7 linked regions of the Homo sapiens genome follow. The protein of the gene in region 7 purifies or fractionates together with the protein of the main gene of each other region. This does not show direct contact. Each region holds a gene or a part of one and is shown on either strand. Other genes may lie near its edges. The genes, in order: PKN3, RPRD1A, ATF1, CLOCK, STRN, GOLGA5 and TUFT1.

Region 1 (3,500 bases), on a different chromosome or scaffold from region 7:
AGAAGGCAGAACTCGGCTGGGTGCGGTGGCTCACACCTGTAATCCCAGCACTTTGGGAGGCCGAGGTGGGCAGATCATGAGGTCAGGAGTTCGAGACCAGCCTGGCCAACATGGTGAAACCCCGTCTCTACTAAAAATACAAAAAATAAGCTGGGTGTGGTGGCATGTGCCTGTAATCGCAGGTACTCGGGAGGCTGAGGCAGGAGAATCTCTTGAACCTTGGAGGCAGAGGTTGCAGTGAGCCGAGATTGCGCCATTGCACTCCAGCCTGGGCAACAGGGCAAGACTCCATCTCAAAAAAAAAAGAAGCCGGGCGCAGTGGCTCACGCCTGTAATCCCAGCACTTTGGGCGGCCAAGGTGGGTGGATCATGAGGTCAGGAGATCGAGACCATCCTCGCTAACACAGTGAAACCCCGTCTCTACTAAAAAAATACAAAAATTAGCCAGGTGTGGTGGTGCTCGCTTGTAGTCCCAGCTACTTGGGCTGCTGAGGCAAGAGAATCGCTTGAACCCAGTAGGTGGAGGCTGCAGTGAGCCGAGACTGCACCACTGCATTGCATCCTGGGCGGCACAGCAAGACTCCGTCTCAAAAAAAAAAACAAACCAAAAAAAAAACAGAAGGCAGAACTCAGTCTCCTCTCCCATCCCTGACCACAGGCTCTCCCTTGGGCCAGGTGCAGGCTGGGGCTACGAGCCTCTAGGACTAGGAAGAAAGGGCCAGTGTGCCCAGCTGTCCCCTGGAATGAGGTCTGGGGTGGTGGAACCAGGGCATCCGCAGGTGAGGAGATTTCCTGGGACATGCCATGTGCCCATCATCCTATTGGCCAGGGTGGGTAAACAAGGCTGGAGATATGGATCCCAATGGGCGGCCCCCACCTTCCTTGCAGAGTCCAAAGTCTGCGATCTTCAGGAATCCCTGGGCATCCAGCAGAAGGTTATCCAACTTCAGGTCCCTGAGGGCAAGGGTGCAGATCAAAGGGACTGAGTGGGGCTTAGACCCAGGGAACAGTAACGGCCCCTGGAGCAGCCCAGGCAGGCGGAGGCAGCATCTGTCCTTACCCACTCCACCCCCACCCCCACCCCTACCCCCGTGCATCCCTGGGACAAAAGTCACCTGTAAATGATCTTCTTCTCGTGTAAGAACTGCAGCCCCAGGACAACACAAGCCACGTAGAAGCTGCAGGGGTGGTTATGGGAGAACTCAGGCCCAAGACACACACCAGGGAGGCAGGGCAGGGAGGCACCAGGATGGCCATAGCGGGGGGATCCCGGATGTCCCGGCCAGAGTCAGAGATGAGTGAGACTGGGACAAGCATCATGCTGAGGGTGGGGGTGCTCCAATAGTCCCAAGGTCGCCCCAAGGTTGCGTGCATTTCCAGCTCACCCTTCATGGGCCCTTAAATGGTGCCAGGGACCAAGTGTTGGTCCCTGCAGTGGATATTCATCATGCCTATTTTTTTTTTTTTTGAGACGGAGTCTCACTCTGTCACCCAGGCTGCAGTGCAGCGGTGCGATCTCGGCTCACTGCAACCTCCACCTCCTGGGTTCAAGCAATTCTCCTGCCTCAGCCTCCCAAGTAGCTGAGACTACAGGCACGCGCCACCACGCCCAGCTAATTTTTTTTTTTTTTTTTTTTTTTTAGTTTTTATAGAGATAGGGTTTCACCATGTTGGCCAGGATGGTCTTGATCTCTTGACCTCATGATCCACACGCCTCAGCCTCCCAAAGTGTGGGGATTACAGGCATGAACCAACGTGCCCGGCCTTTTTTTTTTTTTTTTTAGATGGAGTCTCACTCTGTCGCCAGACCGAAGTGGCGGGATCTCGGCTCACTCCAACCTCCGCCTCCTGGGTTCAAGCGATTCTCCTGCCTTAGCCTCTCAAGTAGCTAGGATTACAGGCGTGTGCCACCATGCCTAGCTAATTTTTGTATTTTTAGTAGAGACAAGATTTTACCATGTTGGCCAGGTCACGAACTCCTGACCTCAGGTGATCCACCCGCCTCAGCCTCCAAAGTGCTGGGATTACAGGTGCCCGGCCAATCATGCCTATTTTTCAAATAAAGATCTGAGACTCACCAGGTGTGGTGGCTCACGCCTGTAATCTCAGCACTTTGGAAGGCCGAGGTGGGCGGATCACTTGAGGTCAGGAGTTAGAGACCAACCTGACCAACATGGAGAAACCTCGTCTCTACTAAAAATACAAAATTAGACAGGAGTGGTGGTGCATGCCTGTAATCCCAGCTACTCAGGAGGCTGAGGCAGGAGAATGGCTTGAACCAGGGAGGCGGAGGTTGTGGTGAGCCGAGATCATGCCATTGCACTCCAGCCTGGGCAATAAGAGCCAGACTCTGTCTCACAAAAAAAAAAAAAAAAAAAAAAAAAAGAAACCTAATGCACAGCTTCATAAGCTGATACCCAGGATCACAAATGCTGTCAGTTGGTGCCAGGATGTAAACCAAGGCCTCTGACTCCTGCTCCCCTGCTGTTGGGCACTTGGAGAAAGCAGTATGTAGAGAGTGGGTGTAGGGAACCAGGCAAAGTTTGCTGGAAGAGGCAGGCAGGAGGGATGGAACCCACCGGGCCTGGGGCTCGGGGAAGACATCCTCGTGGATCTGCATCATGAGGTCACCACCAGGCACAAACTCAGTCACAAAGCAGGCATGGCTGGAGGTCTGGAAGCAGGCAAGGAGGGAGAGCAGGAAAGGGTGCCCTGTGCAGCCCACAGCCTCCAGGATCCGCTTCTCGCAGTACAGGCTACAGGAGAGAGCAAGAGTATTAGAGGGAAGGAAAACTTTCCCTGGGCTGTGCCCTGTGCCCTGCACAACACCCCTGGCTCACTGGGCCCTCAGCCAAAGTGCCAGGCAAGTAGACTGATGGTTTCTTTTCATTTTTTTTTTTTTTTTGAGACACAGTCTTGCTCTGTCGCCTGGGCTGGAGTGCTGTGGTGTGATCTCAGCTCATTGCAACCTCTGCCTCCCGGGTTCAAGAGATTTTTGTGCCTCAGCCTCCCGAGTAGCTGGGATTATAGGAGTGCGCCACCACGCCCAGCTAATTTTTGTATTTTTAGTAGACGCAGGGTTTCGCTGTGTTGCCCAGGCTGGTCTCGAACTCTTGGCCTCAAGTTATCCACCTGCTTCGGCCTTCCAGAATGCTGGGATTACAAGTGTGAGCCAGTGCGCCCAGCCTTTTTTTTTTTTTTTTTTGAGACAGGGTCTCACTTTCTTGCCCAGGCTGGAGTGATGTGGTGCGATCTCGGCTCACTGCAGCCTCCGCCACTGAGGTTCAAGTGATCCTCCCACCACAGCTTCACGAGTAGCTGGGTGTGCACCACCACGCCCAGCTAATTTTTGTATTTTTTGTAGAGGCGGGTTTCACCATGTTGTCCAGGCTGGCCTCGAACTCCTGGGCTCAAGCAATCCTCCCACCTTGGCCTCCTGAAGTGCTGGGATTACAGGCATGAGCCACTGTGCCCAGCCTCCCCCTCCTTTTTTTTTTTTT
Region 2 (3,500 bases), on a different chromosome or scaffold from region 7:
TTTATCTGTCCCGCCTACATGTTTGAAACATAGAAGGAGGAAGCTTAAAGACTCAATGCCCACTTAAAAAAAAAAAAAAAAAAAAGTCTTTCTGGAATTAATCTGATGGTTAAGGAATACCATACCATACCAACATGTAGGAGGACACAGAGTGTTAAGATAATAATTCTAACTTATTTTTCCACAGAATTACATAGTTCTATATAGTTACAAAGAAATGTATGAACACATATATATCACTCTAACACTACTTTTTTTTTTTTTGAGACGGAGTCTCGCTCTGTCACCCAGGATGGAGTGCAGTGGTGCTATCTCGGTTCACTGCAAGCTCCGCCTCCCAGGTTCACGCCATTCTCCTGCCTCAGCCTCCCGAGTAGCTGGGACTACAGGCGCCCGCCACCACGCCCAGCTAATTTTTTGTATTTTTTAGTAGAGACGGGGTTTCACCATATTAGCCAGGATGGTCTCGATCTCCTGACCTCATGATCCGACCACCTTGGCCTCCCAAAGTGCTGGGATTACAGGCGTGAGCCACTGCGCCCGGCCACTCTAACACTACTTTTTACATTTAAAAACAAAAATACTTAAAGGGGCAGTGATTATGTCCAAGAATGAAAATTTTAGTGTATTTAAATCATACATGAGCCGGGCACAGTGGCTCATGCCTATAATCCCAGCACTTTGGGAGGCCAAGGTGGGAGGATCACTTGAGGCCAGGAGTTCAAGACCAGCCTGGCCAACATGGTGAAACCCCATCTCTATTAAACACAAAAATTAGCTGGGCTTGGTGGCCCGTGCCTGTAGTCTCAGCTATTTGGAAGGCTAAGGCAGGAGAATCGCTTGAACCCAGGAGGCAGAGGTTGCAGTGAGCCAAGATAGTGCCACTGAACTCCAGCCCTGGGGACAGAGTGAAACTCCGTCTCAAAAAAAAAAAATCACATAACAAAATAGGCATGTTTTGTTTTATTTTAAAAAGTTTAAATAGCTAACATCTCACATCTAACCATATTTGGCAATTAAAAATCCTCTTTCTATACAAAACATGATTTCTATGCAAAATATACAATATACAACATACTACATTTAACATAAGCAATTTGTTAATGAGGAAGAGATATTCATGTGGCTTCTTTCTTGTACCTAAAAGTATAATAGAAATCAATTTACAGAAGTGAAACGAAATTAATAAAGCTTGGTGGCAACATGAAGTAAAAGTTTGTAACTCTTTTAACAGGGTAAAATTTCTACCTGTGGTGGTTCACTTGGAGATCCCAGAGAGGAACAGTTTTCATTTTCATCCACCTTTATCTGTTCATAAGTTCGCTTCCTAGGCTTCTTATCACCATCTGAAATGAAAGAACATTTAAGTATTAATGAAAGAATACATTTTAATGAAGAGATCAAGGTAAGAGATCAGGATTCTACACTTACACAGAGCTTGTTTAAGTTGTTCTAATACATCATTTTCATAAACAGACCTTTCTTCCCAAATAGATAACACTCTTCCAAGGTGCTTCTTACAACTTTCATCAGTTTCACTAAAAAAAAAAAAAAAGAAAAAAAGAAAAATGTTAACAGTAACAATGCATAGTGTTATTGAAAAGGTTAACGGTAACTTTAAATATAATCAGACATTCATTCCCTGGAAAAAACTGTCCAAATGTCTACTTAGCATCACTATGTGGCCAGCAGCTCAAAAGTGAAGTGATCTAGACACACTGCTTGCTTCTAGTAAACATTTTATAAACATATTATTACACAACCAAAAAAAGTTTAAACTGTAAAAGTTTTAGTACTGGCTGCTAGGGATTTCCTATCCTAATGGGGCCTGGACATGGGGCTAAGGAAGATTTCTCATAGGTTATTTTTTTAAATTTATTCAACAAATACTTATTGATCCAGTTACTATCTTTGACATGGAGATGCAAATGCAGCTTATGGCAGTTGTTATTTATAAGTATCACAAAAGAGAACAAAGTGCTTAAGACAGACCTGGCCCTGTTTAAGAGATATCCGGAAGAGTATTTAAGGAAATGATATTTAATTTGAGATCTTAAGACTAGACATATGGGGAAATGAAAAACAGACTACTCCCAACTGTTTCCTACCTCCTTCATTGCTATCACTGTAGACAGAAACACTACTATCTCTTGCTTAGAATTTTGTAAAGTCTTCTCACGCTCTCCCAGCCTCTACTCTTTTACTCTATTCTGTACAAAGCATCCTAATAATGTAAATCAGATTATACAGCTCTTGATCCTCCAAGAGCTACCAATCACATCAAGAATAAAACCAAAATCCTTACTCTGGGCCATAAGGCCCACATGCTCTGCTTTCTGGCAGTCCCTCAGTACACACTCCCTAATACCTAGTACCATACAAATCTCCTTGCTAAGGTCCTCAAACATGTCCAGCATATAAGCTATCTCATTTTTTCGGCCACATATTCTCTCTACCTAGAATCCTTTCTGCCTAGTCAAATGGCTCATTTCACCCCTTCCTTTAGTCTTTGTTCAAATGCCACCTTCCCCAAATAGTTGTTCTTTATCTCATCACATAACTGAGCGCCCTCATACTATCTAGTTCCTTCCCTGCTTTGTATTTCTTGCTAGCATTTGTCATCTGACATTATGCATTCACTTGTCTATCTACTTATTAACTTTGTCATCCAATGAAATGTAGGCTCCAGTAGAACAAAACTGTCTTGGTCACTACTACTCAGGGTTTTGCATATAATAAATATTTATGCAGCCAATAAATATTTTACTGAATTCTAGGGAGGGGCAACATATATAGAAGACTTAAGGCGGAAAGAACTAAAAAAGGTTAATTTAGCTTAAACTGTAGACTATAGACTGTGTGGAATAAATGCGAGACAGAGGTCTGGGGAGATAGGCAGTGCCACGAAGGAACACCTTAAGTCTTGCTCAGGACTTTAGACTTCATCTCTAAAACAAATGGGAACCACTCAAAGGCAAGGAAGTATTATGACCAGCTCTGCAACTCTGTCGAGTTTTCTAAAGAAATTAAACAATACTAAAGGGCATTAAAATTATACTGAAAATACATTATGGTAACTAAAAGGGAAAGAAATCCAAAGAACCGAGTCAATGTGTACTATGTGAGATATGGGGACTGAAGGAGAAAGAAGAGTTTAAAGGTAACATAATTTCTTGCATAGGCACCTGGATAGATCGAGTTGCCATTCACAGAGTATAAAACCTACAGGAGGGACAAGTACGGTGGGAAGCAAGGACATAATGAGTTCTGTATCAGACACAGTGAGTCTGAAATGTTTGAGACGCATACAAGTAAAAATGTCAAAAGGCAATTGGGCACACAGGTTTGGAACAAAAAAAAATCTGGACTGGAGCATAAAACTGTAAGTCATTACGGTGTGGAGAATAACCAAATACATGCGATGTACAAAATTACCCAGAGGGCAAGTAAAGAATGGAAACAGGCCAGACATGGTGGCTCACGTTTGTAATCCCAGCACT
Region 3 (3,500 bases), on a different chromosome or scaffold from region 7:
GAGATAGTGCCAATGCACTCCAGCCTGGGCAACAAGAGTGAAACTCCATCTCCAAAAAAAGAAAAAAGAAAAGAAAACTTGCAAAGAAAGAAACATTATATGTTAGGCAATAAACTAAGAGCTTTTTAAGCTCAACATTACTGATCATTAGAGAAATGTAAATCAAAACCGCAATGAGATACCATCTCACGTCAGTCAAATGGCGATTACCGGCCTGGCATGGTGACTCACACCTGTAATCCTAGCGCTTTGGGAGATCGAGGCGGGCAGATCACTTGAGGTCAGGAGCTTGAGACCAGCCTGGCCAATATGGCAAAACCCCATTTCTACTAAAAATACAAAAATTAGCCAGGCGTGGTGGTGGGCACCTGTAGTCCCAGCTACTTGGAAGGCTGAGGCAGGAGAATCGCCTGAACCCAGGAGGCGGAAACGATGCAGTGAACAGAAATTGCACCACTGCACTCCAACGTGGGCAAGAGAGCAAGACTCAGTCTCAAGAAAAAAAAAAATAGCTGGCATCGTGGGTGACTGTGGTCCCAGCTACTTGGGAGGCTGCCCAGGAGGCGGAGGTTGTAGTGAGCCAAGATTGTGCCACTGCACTCTAACCTGGGCAATAGAATGAGACTTTGTCTCGAAAAAAAAAAAAAAAAAAAAAAGAATGGCAATTAAAAAGTCAACAGTTGGCGAGGTTTGGAGAATAAGGAATGCTTTTACGTTGTTGGTGGGAGTGTAAATTAGTTCAACCATTGTGGAAGACAGTGCAGCAATTTCTCAAAGACCTACAGGTAGAAATACCATTTGACCCAGCAATACCATTATTGGTATATACCCAAAGGAATATAAATCATTCTATTATAAAGATACATGCCCACATATGTTCACTGCAGCACTATTCACAATAGCAAAGACATGCAATCAACCCATATGCCCATCAATGAGAGACTGGATAAAGAACATGTACATATATATCATGGAATACTATGCAGCCATAAAAAGGAAAGAGATAATGTCCTCTGCAGGGTCATGGATGGAGCTGGAAGCTGTTATCCTCAGCAAACTAACAAAGGAACAGAACATCAAACACTGCATGTTCTCACTTATAAGTAGGAGCTGAATGGTGAGAACACGGGGACACATGGTGGGAGAACAACACACACTGGGGCCTGTGGAGGAGGGTGCGGTGGGGGAAGGGAGAGCATCAGGAAGAACAGCTAATGGATGCTGCGCTTAATACCTAGGTGATGGGTTGTTCTGTGCAGCAAACCATCATGGCACATGTTTACCTATGCAGTAAACCTGCACATCCTGTGCATGTACCCTGGAACTTAAAAGTTGAAGGGAAAAAAAAAGGCTAGGCGCACTCCAGCCTGGGTAACAAAGTGAGACACCCGTCTCTTAAAATAAAAGAGAGAGAGAGAGAGAGAAAAATATATTTAGACAGTTACCTCACCCCAGCTTTAGAAATGGGACAACTTGGCCAGGCACAGTGGGTCACACCTGTAATCCCAGAACTTTGGGAGGCCGAGGTGGGTGGATCACTTGAGGTCAGGAGTTCGAGACCAACCTGACCAACATGGTGAAACTCGGTCTCTACTAAAACTACAAAATTAGCCAGGGGTGGTGGCACATGCCTATAATCCCAGCTACTTGGGAGGCTGAGGAAGGAGAATCGCTTAAATCCAGGAGGCGTAGGTTGCGGTGAGCCGAGACCATGCCATTGCACTCCAGCCTGGGCAACAACAGTGAAACTCCATCTCAAAAAAGAAAAAAAAAAAAAAAAAAGGAATGGAGCAATTCAGGCACAACAAAACTTGCAAAAATATAGCCAAGTGCGATGGCTCATTCCTGTAATCCCAGCACTTTGGGAGACACTTTGTACCCTTAAGCGATAGGATCGCTTGAGCCCAGGAGTTTGAGACCAATCTGAGCAACACAGTGAGACGCTATTGTTACAGGACAGGGTCCCAATCCAGACCCCAACAGAGGGTTCTTGGATCTCGCACAAGAAATAATGGGTCAAGTCCACAGTGTGAAGTAAAAGCAAGTTTATTAAGAAAGTAAAGGAATAAAAGAACGGCTACTCCATAGACAGAGCAGCCCCGAGGGCTGCTGGTTGTCCATTTTTATGGTTATTTGTCGATGATATGCTAAACAAGGGGTGGATTTTTCATGCCTCCCCTTTTTAAACCATACAGGGTAACTTCCTGACTTTGCCATGGCATTTGTGAACTGTCATGGCGCTGGTGGGAGCACAGCAGTGACGACGACCAGAGGTCACTCTCGTGGCCATTTTGGTTTTGGTGGGTTTTGGCCGGCTCCTTTACTGCAACTGTTTTATCATCAAGGTCTTTATGACCTGTATTTTGTGCTGACCTCCTATCTCATCCCGTGACTTAGAATGCCTTAATCATCTGGGAATGCAGGCCAGTAGGTTTTAGCCTCATTTTACCCAGCCTGTTTAAGATGGAGTTGCTCTGGTTCATACGCCTCTGACATTTCCCCCCGTCTAAGAGAACCCTTAATCCTAAGGGTTGCAGAGGGACGAAGATCCATCTTCTATAACTTCTTCAGGCTAAATAGGGCAATGATATTCCTGCCTGCCTATGAGGGTCTCTTGCATTCAGGGTAAAAAGGAGCTCAGTCAGAAAGCATCAGTATGGTAAGGTTCATTCATAACTCAAGTTTCAACAAAAGGTGGTATCTGGAAAATTAGTAAGAAAACGTTCAGTAAGCTTGTCCTGTATTCCTACACAAAAAGTATAACAGCAATATATTCCACAAGAGTAAAGCAAAATAGGCTGGGTACAGTGGCTCACACCTGTAATCCAGCACTTTGGGAGGCCGAGGCAGGTGGATTACCTGAGGTCAGGAGTTCGAGGCCAGCCTGGCCAACATGGTGAAACCCTATCTCTACTAAAAATATAAAAGTCAGCTGGGCGTTGTGATGTGTGCCTGTAATTCTAGCTACTTGGGAGGCTGAGGCAGGAGAATCACTTGAACCCAGGAGGCGGAGGCTGCAGTGAGCCAAGATGGTGTCACTGCAGTCCAGCCTGGGCGACAGAACAAGACTCTGTCTCAAAAAGAAAGAAAGAAAAAAAAAAGAGTAAAGCAAAATAAGTAAAGTTATTCCAAATAAACTAAATTAGAAGACTTTTCATGAACCAGGCAACCACTGGAACTAAGCTGATATCGGGTTGTTAGCTGATTGTAATGTGCCCAGAATCAGAATACTGATCCAGATTTTTAAATTACCCATCCCTCTTATTTCTTCTGAGCAACAATTAGAGATTACTGGTTGGTTTACAAGAATACGCAGGGTTAGCCTAAATTGCAGAAACAAACTTAAAAACAATTAATGAGACCAGAATTTAATAACAAGTGTACCATAGTTTTTGAAACATAGTATTTCTCTCTCCAGTTTCCCATTTTTACTAAAGACAAATTATGGTAAGACTGACTTGCTTTATTATACTTGGCCTGATTGTTTGTATAAAGTGCAG
Region 4 (3,500 bases), on a different chromosome or scaffold from region 7:
AATAAGTAGTAAAGTATAATCACATCCCCGTTATAAGTGAGGAAATAAAGTATTTTTGAAAAATAGTTTTCCTATTAATTATTGAGTTTCATCTTTTATTGGGGAGAAATTAAAAATAATTTTTTTTAATTATAAGAAACATACTTTGTCAGCAGCTGTCTCAGGAAGAGACTCTTCAATGCCAAGTTCTCGTCGTCTTTCAGCCCTAACTTCTGCATAACTACAAATGGAAAAAATAATCAAATTTTAGTGTCTGGTCATTCGTTTAAAATACTGCACAGCTGTAACTATTCAGTGTTGTTACGTGTCTCATCTGTTCATCTAGACTATTTGCTATGTGCTACACAAACCTAAAATATACCTATAATGTCTTAATTTAACTTGCATTTTTCTAGGTATCTTAAAGTTTCATACACTGCTGTAAACGATCCATAACCACACAATACTTAAATTAAGAAAAATAAATAAAGGAAGTGTATGCTTATCTACCTACAGTTTTCCTTTTACATGACTGACATTACTACATAAATGACAGTAACAACTTCTGCTGTAAAGCACAAAATTTATATCAAGACTTATATATCTATATCATTCCTATATTTATATATAATGCCTATAAGTAAATTTAATAATATATTGAAAGGATCTATCAGCAATTGAGAAAAGAGCACTTTGTAGCTCTTTAACAACTTACGCATAAAAGTTACAATGCCAAAATCATCATAGGATGTTACAGTAATTCAGAAATTCTCTAAAAGAATTATTACCTTACTACAGTGTGAGTACAAACAATAAACTCTGGCCTTGAATTCCACTGATGGTAAGTGATATAATAATGAGTCTGAAGCCAAATCCACTGTTGCCCCTTAGTCAGGAACCTATAATAACATGATTTGCCTTTCCCATATTGCATTACTAAAAGGAAAATAGAGAAATATTTTTTCTTTAATTCATATTATATAAAGATTGTTTTTTAACCAAAAGCTATCATTTACATTTAAGTTTACACATACTATTATTTTTCTGGCCTTTTGATAACATATATGTCAATATGAAAATGTTATTCTTTAGAGCTAGTTTAAGGTCCCAAGCAATTATCAGATCTACAGTGCCCAATTCACAGCTAGTCACTGCTGATCTTACAATCTTTCCATACACAATTAATACTTAAGAATTCACACTGCTGACTTCCTCCTGCCTAGATATACAGAGGGTAATAACAATAAATAATCACCCCTGAGTTTTTTCTCCTAACTACTCTGGCAGGCACAGAATCTTTGAAGCATTTAATTTTAAACCTTAACTAACCAAAATCAAAGTAACTGAGTCTGAAGTAACTGAGTGCAGTAACTGCCAAAACATGTGCTGTGGATTTTAAGTTCTGAAGCGTTTTAACAGATATTAAACAAAAAAATGGGTTTTGGGCCAGGTGTGGTGGCTCACGCCTGTAATCTCAGTACTTTAGGAAGCAGAGGTGGGAGGATCACTTGAGGTCAGGAGTTTGAGACCACCCTGGCTCACATAGTGAAACCCCATCTCTACTGAAAATACAAAAATTAGCCAGGCATGGTGGTACGTGCCTGTAATCCCAGCTACTCACGAGGCTGAGGCAAGAGAATCACTTGAACCCGGGAGGTGGAGGCTGCAGTGAGCTGAGACACGCCACTGCACTCCAGCCTGGGTGACAAAGCAGGACTCCATCCCAAAAAAAAAAAAAAAAAAAAAAAAAGGGTTTGTAGTTAAATTAATTTGGGAAACTTTTTGTTAAATAGGTGTCTTCAGTTTTCTCAAAACCTAGAGTATGCTAATGCATGTGCAGATTCTCTGAGGGATTATGAAGTGTTTCCCCATCTTCCTTGACTATAAAGTCTTTTTTTATGGACCAACATTCGGTGGAACAAACCTTAGAAAATGCTAGTCAAGAATCTCTCAATCTGTCCCCCCACCCCCCAACCCCGCCGCCACCGCCTCTCACTCTCTAAGGAGGAAATCAAGGTCTACAAACAAACTTGCTGTCCAAAGTTACCCAGCTAGTTAATAGAGGTATCAGCTCTTTAGACAACATCATGGTGCTTAATGCCCACATCTTTTGTGCTGAAATGACTTTACTCTGAAAATTTTCCATAGAGTTAATGCTATTATACAACCTGCTTCATTTTCATACAGTGAGGTTTATAACAGCAGCATAAAACGTCATGAAAAGGTCTAAAATATCTAGTTAAGCTTTAGTGAACACTCAAGATGGTAAGCATCTGGGAGGAGGATCAGAGAAGCAAATAAAACATATCATTAAGGCAAACCTCATCATTAAAACAAACTTCTAAAATAAATACATGTGATAAAAAGAGTAGGCCTAGGCTCCAATCCTGTCTCTGCCACCAATGAGCTATGAAATTATGGGTGAATTACTTAGCCTTACTGTGTTCTCAGCTTACTCATGAAGATAATAATAGCATCTACCTTTTAGAACTGTGATGGAGAATAATGAAGATAATAGATGTAAAGTGTTTAGAACAGTGCCTGGCACAAAGGATGATAATGCTCCTGCTCTAACAACAATAATAAGCAGATAACACCAAGCACTTACTATGAGCTTTCTAAGACAGATTTTCCAGACATGTACCTAGCTCCTGAAAAGATTCACATGCCTCAAAATCAAAATTTAGGAAACAATACTCCAAAAGTTTGAAGTATTACAATTTTCAAAGGAATCTACTTCTCTTACTCCAGATATAGAGCTCACGTGCTTCAGAACAAGGTGTATTAGATGCAATATTATAAAATTCTACTTATTATAAAAATAGGAACAAGTTTAAACTTGATCTATGATTCCTACTACATTGGTTATATACATAAAGCAAAATCTTTTAGCATATTTCAAAAATATGAAAATGATTATAAATCTGTGTCTTACTACCTATCATTTCAGGACAGGACTTCTGCTTATAAAACAGTTATTATCACCAGAAATGTTAAAATCTACTTACAGTGCTCATGACATTTTGCCAAATTTTCTAGGTCATCCACATGATAGTAATCATAGCCTGATGTTCCCAGAACTTCAAATGGCAAATACCCTATTATGGGTGGTGCCCTAAATTACACAGAAAACAATCATTATTATAAGTTTTTCCATAATAAGAAATATTTCAACTAGAAATAAACTTTGGGGGGGGGGCTTTATTTTTCAAAAAATGGGAACAGGTTTCAAAGTCCTAATTTAAAAAAAAGTTTGCCCTTGATCCATTAATTTCAAGAATTATATAACATGACTATTACCTTTTCATGGAATTTAAAAATGGAATTACCTGTGATCTAGAAACAGAAACTTCCATTCTAAACTATGTCTAGATGTAAACTCTTCATTGGGTTCTTCAACAGTGCACATTTCCTACAAATAAATAATTAAAATTTATAAATACTTTGTGTCCTTAAGAATATTAAATATTGCTACATATAAAAATAAGTCATGGCCAGGTGCAGTGGCTCACACCTGTAAT
Region 5 (3,500 bases), on a different chromosome or scaffold from region 7:
TGTCTTTAGTTCATTTATTCTGTGACTGTTTTCAAAATTTCAATGTTAGGAAAGAGAATTGCCTGATAAATCTGGAAATATTTATAAATTACAATTTCCTGCTATATGTGGGTGCCATCTATGGCTTAGTCTAGAGCCACTAACGCTGTTCATTCTACAATGTTCTGTGAGATTTTGCTACTTTAAGTAAGTTCTATCATCACTTACATGGAGATAATTCTCAAATTTAAATCTCAGCTCTTTTTGCATACAAAGTTCTGTATCACATCATTATCATCTAAAGATATATATGACAAAGAGGGCTTCTTAATCCTTAAATCCCTTTATCACTCTTCCTCATCATAATAGAAATGGTCATTTGACAGAACTAGGTTTGGAATCCTAAAAGTCAGCATCCTAACTGTATTTTTTGTGTTAGTAAGTTCCAAAGAAACTTCAATTATACACACAATGAGACAGGCAAGCACATATCATTAAGCCTATATTACAGTGAACACATCAAGGTTCAGAAAAAGTTGTGACTCCTCCACAATCAGGTGACAAAATCAGTACCTATTCTAACTTCTGACTCTCTCCCAACCTGATGGTTCATGCAGATCACACAACTGTCAAAATTGGTTCCTAAATGATCACACATTCTTCCTGAAAGGCTTTTATTAAAAAGAAATCAGTAATTTAAAACCTCAGTGATTTCTGTTAAGCTTTTTTTAAGAGAAAAGAAAAACTGACATAAAGAAAACACTAATTGAAGGTATGTCAAAGTTTTAAAAATTAAATTATGGTCCAGGGAGAGGAAGGGGTGTCCTTGTAAAATATATTACTGGAACAACTCTCAAAATTTGAATATAAATAGTAATTCAGATAATAGTATTGTGTCAATGTTAAGTTTCCGGATTTTGATCATTGTAATACACTACATCAGAGAATGCCCTTGATCTTAGAATTACACGCTAAAGGATCTAGGGGAATAGGAGCATGACGTCTCTCATATGGTTCAGAATTAAAAATTATACACATATATAGAGTGAAAAAGCAAATGTGACAAAATGTTAAAAACTGCTAAATATGTGTGAAGGGTAGCCAGAAGTTCTCGTACTATTTTTGTACCTTTTCTGCAAGTTTAAAATTATTTCAAAATAGAGTTTAAAAAATTTTTTGAACCCTAGAATAGGTATTACAAGTTTATATTCACATAATAGAAAATACAGCTAAAAATAGTCTAATCTTACAGGATTTTCATGTGGCTCCTAGAAATATAACATCTTAAAAACTGAAGACAGTCTTTTCCCAATGCTAGTGGCAGGTAATTACCCAGCCTGTTATTTAAATATAAAATGTGGCTGGGCACGGTAGCTCACACCTGTAATCGCAGCACTTTAGGAGGCCGAGGCAGGCGGATCACTTGAGGTCAGGAGTTCGAGACCAGCCTGGCCAACATGGTGAAACTCTGTCTCTACGCAAAATACAAAAATGAACCAGATATGGTGGCACACGCCTGTGGTCCCAGCTACTTGGGAGGCTGAGGCAGGAGAATCGCTTGAGCCCAGGAGGTGGAGGTTGCAGTAAGCTGAGATCGCACCACTGCACTCCAGCCTGGGCAACAGAGCGAGACTCTGTCTCAAAAAAAAATAAATATAAAACAAAAACTCACTTGACCATGTGGAGTAAGTTCTTAGTCAGTTACACCTGGTTTAGATCCTAAACAAAGAGATGTTTATTTATAAAATTCAGACTACGCATTATTTCCTCCACAGATAATACTCCATTGAGCAACACCCGTGGTAAAGTCCAGCAAGAGAATAACAGTAACAACAAAAAAAGAAATACTTTAAGTGAAATATCCCATATATTCTGAGAGAGACGTTTCAGAGAATAGCCTCAATTGCTTTGAGAGCTAGAAAATAAATATGATTGAAATCAAATCATGGAAACAGGCAAAAGAAAGTTCTTATTTGGTAACACTTTTAAGGAAGCTTCTCCACTTGATGATAAATCAGAGAAGTCGGCAGAATGCAAAGAACACTACTCATACCTAGCTTGTGACGTATCTGCTTCAACTACCTTTGACTTTACCACAGTCAAATCGCCATTGACATCAATGAGAAGAAGGGTAATTTATTCCTATTCTAACAAACATCCTTCATCACTTTAAACTCTATATAAAACTCACTTTCTCCTTGAAGCTTGTTTGGTCCTTTCATTTTTTTAAAAAAATATGCTAAATTCCAAAACAGAACAACACAATCAATTATAAATAACAAGGGGTAGTTCACAGTAAAACATAATAAGAGACTAATTTAAGTTTTCTTTATACAACTTTAAAAGTAAAAAACATAATTTAGAAAATGTCAGGACATATTACAACTCAAAATAATGATCATTTATTCCAGTAATGTTGCCTTTGTTAAAAACATTCTTGGAAGTTTTCTCAAAATGTTTCCAGTGTCAAGTAAAAAGTCCTATTAATTTAGAGTCACATCTCTTGGGGGAAAATGTGGATTCACTCGCCTAGTTCTCTTTATCCATCTTATCTACCAGACTTGACATCTTATTAACCTGCAGTCATTAAAAAGCACTATTTCCACTCAGGATGTTCACAAATTGGCCATATAATCTCTGAAGGTAATTACAAAAATGTTCTCATCCTTTCTAATTTCATATTAGTTTTTTATTTTGCTACTGTAGCTTTGAGTCATATATTTAAACATGATTTTAAATTTATTGAGAGTCTAAAACCTGTAATTTCTTGCTGAAAAAAATTCTCCTTTTCCAATTCTATCACCTGAGTTTAATTTATTTTCCTGTCTCTCTCGTTTACATCCAAGTAGCTCAAAGTTCTATTCATGCTTACTTCCCCAAACAAGTCTCAGCATATCAGAAGAAAACAATGAACAACAGGTTAGGAAGGGAAAATGATGAAAACCACAAAGGAATAAAGAAACTTTTTGAGAGAGAGAGAGACAGAGAGTGAGAACACCACAAGAACATATGTAAACATATGCATGTACATGTTCACACATGCATGTGCACACACACAACATATCATCACTTTTAAAGCTAGTTCTCAGATTAAAACAAGAGTATATGTATGTCGTATTCTTCATCAACTGCAACCTAAACTGTGATTGTCTAGATTATGGCTAACGACAGAAAGCAATGGTTAAGAAAGCCAAAAACCAAAAAAGAGTCTGTAATATCTTCTTCATAACCTGAAAAAGCACTTATTTCCTGACTTCCTGCATCCAATAAGAAGCTTCAGGTTTGGAATTCTGAGTGCCACAACATGATCTGTATTGAGCTGTACCAAATCATACTATTAATATAAAATTAAGTTGATTTAAAATATGAAATTACGAGAAATGAAAAATAGAATTTCCTATTCAGAATAAATATGGCTTTCTTCAAATAGAATTGAAAATTAATCATTTAGTATAAAATAAAACTTGACCCATAACAGCTCAAATGCTATTTCAAACAGTATAGTTATAAATGTACATAAA
Region 6 (3,500 bases), on a different chromosome or scaffold from region 7:
TTACAATAACATTCACATCTTCCTCAGTCACTACCTCCATAATGAGATTATTTCCTTCTTAATTACCTATTTCTGAGGAACTTGAGGTTTTCTACTCCAGGGCCACCTCACTGCACAATTCCCAAGGGCACTGAACTGAATTCCATGTACCTTTTATATGCCCTAGAGCAGCAACACTGCAACTCTATTAGTGCCTACTACTTTGTTTAATGGAACAGCTTCCCTTGAAAGTTCAGAATAAATGAATGAACTAGACTACTACTAGTTTGTTCCTCTCAGTTCTTCAATTTCATGGTTCTTAAAGGATGACCAAAGAAGCGAATACTCTTATGTTTTGGGTTGGTGGGAGGATGACTGGTCCCATTTCCAAATCTGGGCAGTTTTTCTATGAAAATATCATTTTACAAGTCGCATCTAATTTCTCACAGTTTAAATGTAAATATTTCTAACAGTTTAAAGTTTTTAAGTTTATTATTTTATTTTATTTTTATTTATTTATTTTTGAGATAGAGTCTTGCTCTGCTGCCCAGACTAGAGTGCAGTAGTGCAATCTCGGTTCACTGCAACCTCCACCTCCCTGGTTCAAGCAACTCCCCTGCCTCAGCCTCCTGAGTGGCTGGGATTACAGGTGCCTGCAACCACATCTGACTAATTTTTTTGTATTTTTAGTAGACACAGGGTTTCACCATGTTGGCCAGACTGGTCTTGAACTCCTGACCTCAGGCAATCCGCCCGCCTCGGCCTCCCAAAGTGCTGGGATTACAGGCACGAGCCACTGCGTCCAGCCTTAAGTTTATTTTTAAAAGTTAAATTCCTAATCCTGAACAATTTAAGCCTCTACCTTCTTGAGTCTCTTTGGATCTTTGGAGTAACGAGGCCATTTCTTGATTTAAAGACTGAACTTCATTCCTCAGCAGCTGATTCTCCAGTCGAAGGTTAGACAGTTCATGTGATTTGCCATCATCATTAGGTGTTGGGGTGTGGTCAGGGCAGGCAGCATTTGATGACACATTTTCCTTTGAAGATTCCTCTTGACCTTCATGGCTAGAATCTGAGTTACTGGCAGCTTCTGTAAAAAAAAGAATACGTTTTTGTTACATTGGCGTGTTCATCACATATGCATTAACAACTTGCTTTGGTAGGATGCTCAAGTTGACTGCTACAGCTAAAACACCATAAAAAGTAAATTCTCAGCTAGGCGCGGTGGCTCATGCCTGTAATCCCAGCATTTTGGGAGGCCGAGGCAGGGAGATCACTTGAGGTCAGGAGTTTGAGACCAGCCTGACCAACACGGTGAAACCCCATCTCTACCAAAAATACAAAAATTAGCCAGGTGTGGTGGCACACACCTGTAGTGCCAGCTACTCAGGAGGCTGAGGCAGGAGAATCACTTGAGCCTGGGAGGCCAAAGGTGTTGCAGTGAGCCAAGATTGCACCACTGCACTCCAGCCTGGGCAACAGAGCGAGACTCCATCTCAAAAAAAATACATAAATAAACAAATTTTCAATAGTCTTCCCTCTGATTAAATTTCATTCTCATAAATGGGGCATATGGACCTCTAAGGATACTCAAGTCTGGATACACTGAATGAATGACAACAGACAGTACAACACCATTCTGGGGAGAACATCAGAGATCATGTGAGTGGTTGGGTTCAGGTAAAATGGGTTTGGATTTCCTTTTGTCTCCAAAATGCTTTTGGGAAAAAAAACCAGGAGAAGTCTCAAATACTGAAAAATTGGGAAGGCACAATAGAGTAGCTGCAGGTTTCAAGGCAAGAAGAGTAATAACAGGTCACTACAAGGTTTTTTGTTTTTTTTTTTTAATCAAACTGGAATCTAACATGTCTTACCCAAAGAGATAGAGACACATGAATTCAGATTAATCTTGTTTTTGTTACTAAATATAATGCAAGTATACTTTTAAATTACTCTAAAAATTATGTGATGAAAATGAACTATATATCTAAATAATAAAACTGACTAAAACAATCAGTATATGGGTAAAAGACTTGATACTTTATAAGGTTATATAAACAAATATCAATAATCAAATGAAAAAGTTCTGAACATGTTTAGTCATCAAGGAAATGCAAATTAAAATCACAATGAGAACCAACAGACACCCCCTAGAATGGCTAAAATTAAAAACACCAAATGTTGGTGACACTGCAGAGCAACTAGACCTCTCACTGCTGGTGGGACTATAAAATGGTACAATCACTGGGGGAAAAGGTTTTACAATTTCTTATGAAATTAAACATGCAGCTACCGTTTCACCCAGCAATTCCACTCCTAGGTATTTATACAAGAGAAATGAAAACATTTGCCCACAAAAAAGCAAGTACAAAAATGTTTATAGCAGTTTTATTCACAATAATCCAAAACTGGAAACAAACCCAATGTCCATAAAAGAGAATAGATAAACTGTGGTACAGCCGTATAATAGAGTACTACATAATAAAACAGAATAAAAAAAGAACAGTAACATGGATGAATCTCACTAACAGTTCAGTAAAAGAAGCCAGATTAGAAAGTATATATACTATATGATTCAATTTATATGAAGTTTTAGAACAAGCAAAACTAAGGAGAGAAAAATCAGAGCACTGGGTGCTTTCAGGGACGGGGTGAGGAGATTAAGTGGAAAGGAACATGAGGAACTTTCTGGGGCAAAGGAAATCTATAACACGGTAAAGGTGTGGGTTACACAGGTATTGCCATTCGTCATATAGCTAAGATTTGTGTGCATCTTAATATATGTACATTTTACCTAAAAGAAAAAATAACCACAAAAAGCTAATAATCAAGTGGGGTAGGGAATGGGCACCTAAGACGTGACTTAAAAATGGGAGTGTTGGCAGGGCGTGGTGGCTCACGCCTGTAATCCCAGCACTTTGGGAGGCTGAGGCAGGCGGATCACAAGGTCAGGAGTTTGAGACCAGCCTGGCCAACATAGTGAAACCCTGTTTCTACTAAAAATTAGCTGGGCATGGTGGCGGGTGCCTGTAATCTCAGCTACTTCGGAGGCTGAGGCAGGAGAATCGCTTGAACCTGGGAGGCAGAGGTTGCAATGAGCTGAGACTGCACCACTGCACTCCAGCCTGGGCAAAAGGTGAGACCCTGTCTCAAAAAAAAAAAAAAAAAAAGAAAGAAATTATTACATTTTTAAGGTGATAATGGTGTGAACATTTGCTTTTAGAGTATTTTTAGAGTAAGAAAATGAAATGTTTATAGAAAAAATGATATAAGATCTGTGATTTGCTTCAAATTAATTGTGCGGAGGGTGCAGGTGAAGAAAGTGATGGGAAATGGGAGGGTATAAATGAAACATGAATGGCCATGAGTGATTACTGTAGTTGGATAATAGGAGGTCATTACGTTCTATTTTGGTATGTTTGAAATTTCTAAAATAAAGATTTTAAAAAGAAATGAAGTAGGCCAGGCGTGGTGGCTCACGCCTGTAATCCCAGCACTTTGGGAGGCCGAGGAGAAAGGAC
Region 7 (3,500 bases):
TTTGGGAGGCCAAGGTGGGAGGATCACCTGAGGTCAGGAGTTCGAGACCAGCTTGGCCAACATGGTGAAACCCCATCTCTACTAAAAATACAAAAATTAGCCAGGCGTGGTGGCTCACGCCAGTAGTCCCAGCTACTCAGTACGCTGAGGCACGAGAATTGCTTGAACCCAGGAGGTGGAGGTTGCAGCGAGCCAAGATCATACCACTGCACTGTACCCTGGGTGACAGAGCGAGACTCCATCTCAAAAAATAACAAATAAAGTACAGTCATGGAGGCCAAGCATAGTAGCTCATGACTATAATCCCAAAACTTTGGGAGGCCGAGGTGGGCAGATCACTTAAGCCCAGGAGTTTGAGATGAGCCTGGGAAACATGATGAGACCCTGTCTTTACAAAAAATACAAAAATTAGCCAGGTGTGGTGGCACGTGTCTATAGTCCCAGCCACTATAGTGGCTGCCACAGTCCCTCCCAGGCTGAGGCAGGAGGACTACCTGAGCCCAAGAGGTTGAGAATATAATGAGCCATGACTGCACCACTGCACTCCAGCTCAGATGACATAGGGAGACCCTGTCCCAAAAAATAATAATTATAAAAATTTAAAAAGTAGGCTAGGCACAGTGGCTCATGCCTATAATCCCAGCACTCTGGGAGGCGAGGCAAGCAGATCACTTGAGCCCAAGAATTCAAGAGCAGCCTGGGCAACCCCATCTCTACAAAAATTAGCCAGGCATAATGGCGCGTGCCCTATAGTCCCAGCTATTGGGTAGGCTGAGGTGGGAGGATTGCTTGAACCCCGGGGGTCGAGGCTGCAGTGAGCCATGATTGCCACTGCACTCCAGCCTGGGTGACAGGGTGAGACTCTGTCAGTCAGTCAATCAATCAATCAATCAGTCAATCAATCAAGTACAGCCATGGAAGGAAATACTATGTAGTTATTCAAAAGAATGAGGTAGATCTATATGTACTGACATGGAAAGAAGGTTATAATATACTCTTTAGTTAAGAAAAAAAAAGCAAGCAAAGAATAATGTATTTACCATGATCTTATAGTTGAGAAAAGCACATGTATATTATATACATATATTTATCATGTATATATGGTGTGTATATAACATATACATGATATTTAAATATGGTTGTCTATGTATATAAAAATATTCTAGAATACTGGCACTCAACTTTAGCTAAACATTAGTATCACCTGAAGAGCTCTTAAAAGTCCTGATGCCCAGGCCACCTATTGGAACAATGAAATGACAAGCTCTAGGGATGGGACCCAGGCATCATATCCTTTAACGCTTGCAAGGCCATTCCAATGAACAGCTGAGGCTGAGAAGCACTGCCCTAGAAAGATCCACCCACTTCAATCTGTTAACAGTGGATACTCGCAAGGAGAGAGATTGGGGAAGGAGAATTTCTACTCTTTGTATTTCTCTGTGTTTGAATTTTTATGTCAACTACTACTCTTGTATTTAATGAGAGAGAGAGAGAGAGAGAAAGCAATAAACAAAAGGATGGGGAGGAGGCAATCCTGCCCCTGGCTAAGCGGAGCCACCATGGTGTCCTCTGTTACCTACCTCAGGTGGGCTGCTGTACAGGGCTGTGGGACTCTGACTAAAGCCATTTGGCTTTTCTAGCACCACCTGTTCAAAGAAAAATAAAATTGGTAGTTAAAACAGATGAAAGCAACCAACTTTGAAACATTATTCTCCTAACACTCAAATCTTAGAAAGAGAAGGACAGGGAGAGGGAGAGGAAGGTGAAAGGGAGGGGGAGGGAGAGAGAAAAAGAAAGGGAGGGAGAAAAAGGAAGGAATGAAGAAAGGAGAAGAGGAAGAAGGAACGAAGCGAAAGAAGAAAAGATTTCTAGCGTTCCATGAGAAAATAGAAACAAGAGGGGGTGGAGAGATGTTATGCGGCCTTGAAAGGGCCTTGAAAGTCTTGTAGGGAGGATGAAAAAAACCTCAGGCTAAAATCTTTCAGCAGATGGAAAAGTATGTGTAGCCCATTCTTCTTAGCCAGGGAATACATGCAGCTGCCTGCCACAAACAAAGAGCTTCCCTTGCCCCCAGGGATCCTGATAAAGTTTGACAAAGCAAAAATTACAAAGGGAAGATCTTTTTCAATTATTTCTGACCCAAAGCCTGATTATTCATCATATGACAGCCGGTTTGTGCAAACAAGGGGGCTGGACTTTGGGCCAGTCTCTGCACACATTAGGTTCTTCTGATACCTGACAAAGTAGCTCCCACCAGCCAGATGTGAGCTCAAGCACTGAAAGACCTACCTTCAGCCAAAGCAAAAATTAGGTAATTTCCACCACACAAGTGCATGCCCAAGACAAAGAACTTTCCTTGCACCAGCTGCTGGGCCACTGTTCCCCTCAAGGGAATGAAGGCAGGGGCTGCTGCTGGAGCAAGACTCTGCCTGAACCAAAATGCAAATCAAGGATACAACTCAGAATCTAAAGGATGAGGGCGAAGTCACAAAGAGACAGCTCTGCTCTCCTGAGGACATTTCTGTCCTCGAGTTTTGGAAAAACTGAAAAGCAGGATCCCAGGATTATCCCTCCCAGGAAAGACTTACCCAATCTGTTCAGTCTAACAAACATTTACTGATGCCTTCTACATCCCAGACCTGGGGGGAATGGGAGGGTGAGGATACAGACACGAGGTGGGGTGGGGTGGGGTGAACTCCTAACCTTGAGGAACTTCCCATCCCAGGTTAGACATAACTATATACAAGATTAATAACAGGCTAGGGCACGGACTTCAATTTACGCTACAGGTATCACCCAAACTAAGCAAGATCAGCTTATGAGAAGTGTGGATTTACAGGTGATTGTCTGCTTTACAAAATTCTATTATTATAAGAAGCTTGATCACAGAATCCTTATAGATAAGAGGTTTGCTAACAACTGATGATATTTAATTTATATAAGTTCAATTTCTGTACAGTGTTTCAGGAGCAGGTGTACTTATGTTTAAGCTGACATGTGTAAATGTAAGTGCTCATCGGCTGGAGAGTCCTAACCAGATTGTGAGTGCTCCAGAGAAGCCAGCATCACCTCTATTTTCTCCATTCCTGGCAGGGATGCTAGATTTAGCACACACTGGGTAATTGGTAAATGAGACTGCCTGGCACAACCCCACCTCCTCGGTGGGGACCCAACCATGGACCATTTCCTATTACCTGTATCTCCTGTCGATGGAGAGAATCTCCTAGGTTCCTGTCAAGCTTGCTACTTATATCCTCCCGGAGCTTCTGTAGGCAGTTCCTGGCCTGGGAGGGGAGGGGAAGAAACTTGAGCTTTAGGGTAGAGAAAGAGAGCATGCCAACTCACCCAACTCTGTGCCCCATCCCTGGCCTGTACTGCGAGTCAGGCACTGTCCTAACGACTGGCTGCAGGATGGAGGGAGGGACCTTGGTCAAGTGGAGCTACAGCTGACATTCTTGTTGGGGAGACACAAGACACAAAAGACAAATAAGTAAAATGTG

The links.
Region 1: the proteins of TUFT1 (region 7) and PKN3 purify together in Homo sapiens (affinity purification with mass spectrometry, with the first as the bait; one large-scale study listed by BioGRID). This does not show direct contact.
Region 2: the proteins of TUFT1 (region 7) and RPRD1A purify together in Homo sapiens (affinity purification with mass spectrometry, with the first as the bait; one large-scale study listed by BioGRID). This does not show direct contact.
Region 3: the proteins of TUFT1 (region 7) and ATF1 purify together in Homo sapiens (affinity purification with mass spectrometry; 3 studies listed by BioGRID and IntAct, with this or other methods). This does not show direct contact.
Region 4: the proteins of TUFT1 (region 7) and CLOCK purify together in Homo sapiens (affinity purification with mass spectrometry, with the first as the bait; one large-scale study listed by BioGRID). This does not show direct contact.
Region 5: the proteins of TUFT1 (region 7) and STRN purify together in Homo sapiens (affinity purification with mass spectrometry, with the first as the bait; one large-scale study listed by BioGRID). This does not show direct contact.
Region 6: the proteins of TUFT1 (region 7) and GOLGA5 purify together in Homo sapiens (affinity purification with mass spectrometry, with the first as the bait; one large-scale study listed by BioGRID). This does not show direct contact.

What each region holds. Positions count from the first base shown.
Region 1 is NC_000009.12:128,716,003-128,719,502, reverse strand, and holds part of PKN3 (serine/threonine-protein kinase N3), read right to left. Parts: intron 2,757-3,500; coding exon 2,580-2,756; intron 1,179-2,579; coding exon 1,116-1,178; intron 955-1,115; coding exon 878-954; intron 1-877.
Region 2 is NC_000018.10:36,029,560-36,033,059, forward strand, and holds part of RPRD1A (regulation of nuclear pre-mRNA domain-containing protein 1A), read right to left. Parts: intron 1,539-3,500; coding exon 1,432-1,538; intron 1,347-1,431; coding exon 1,249-1,346; intron 1-1,248. UniProt on the Homo sapiens protein: Interacts with phosphorylated C-terminal heptapeptide repeat domain (CTD) of the largest RNA polymerase II subunit POLR2A, and participates in dephosphorylation of the CTD by RPAP2.
Region 3 is NC_000012.12:50,770,601-50,774,100, reverse strand, and holds part of ATF1 (cyclic AMP-dependent transcription factor ATF-1), read right to left. Parts: intron 653-3,500; exon of another isoform or gene 1-652.
Region 4 is NC_000004.12:55,452,910-55,456,409, forward strand, and holds part of CLOCK (circadian locomoter output cycles protein kaput), read right to left. Parts: intron 3,392-3,500; coding exon 3,309-3,391; intron 3,095-3,308; coding exon 2,988-3,094; intron 916-2,987; coding exon 768-915; intron 489-767; exon of another isoform or gene 221-488; coding exon 145-220; exon of another isoform or gene 1-144. UniProt on the Homo sapiens protein: Transcriptional activator which forms a core component of the circadian clock.
Region 5 is NC_000002.12:36,851,537-36,855,036, forward strand, and holds part of STRN (striatin), read right to left. Parts: intron 1-3,500. UniProt on the Homo sapiens protein: Calmodulin-binding scaffolding protein which is the center of the striatin-interacting phosphatase and kinase (STRIPAK) complexes.
Region 6 is NC_000014.9:92,804,305-92,807,804, reverse strand, and holds part of GOLGA5 (golgin subfamily A member 5), read right to left. Parts: intron 1,070-3,500; coding exon 842-1,069; intron 1-841. UniProt on the Homo sapiens protein: Involved in maintaining Golgi structure. Stimulates the formation of Golgi stacks and ribbons. Involved in intra-Golgi retrograde transport.
Region 7 is NC_000001.11:151,564,309-151,567,808, reverse strand, and holds part of TUFT1 (tuftelin), read right to left. Parts: intron 3,285-3,500; coding exon 3,195-3,284; intron 1,647-3,194; coding exon 1,581-1,646; intron 1-1,580. UniProt on the Homo sapiens protein: Involved in the structural organization of the epidermis. Involved in the mineralization and structural organization of enamel.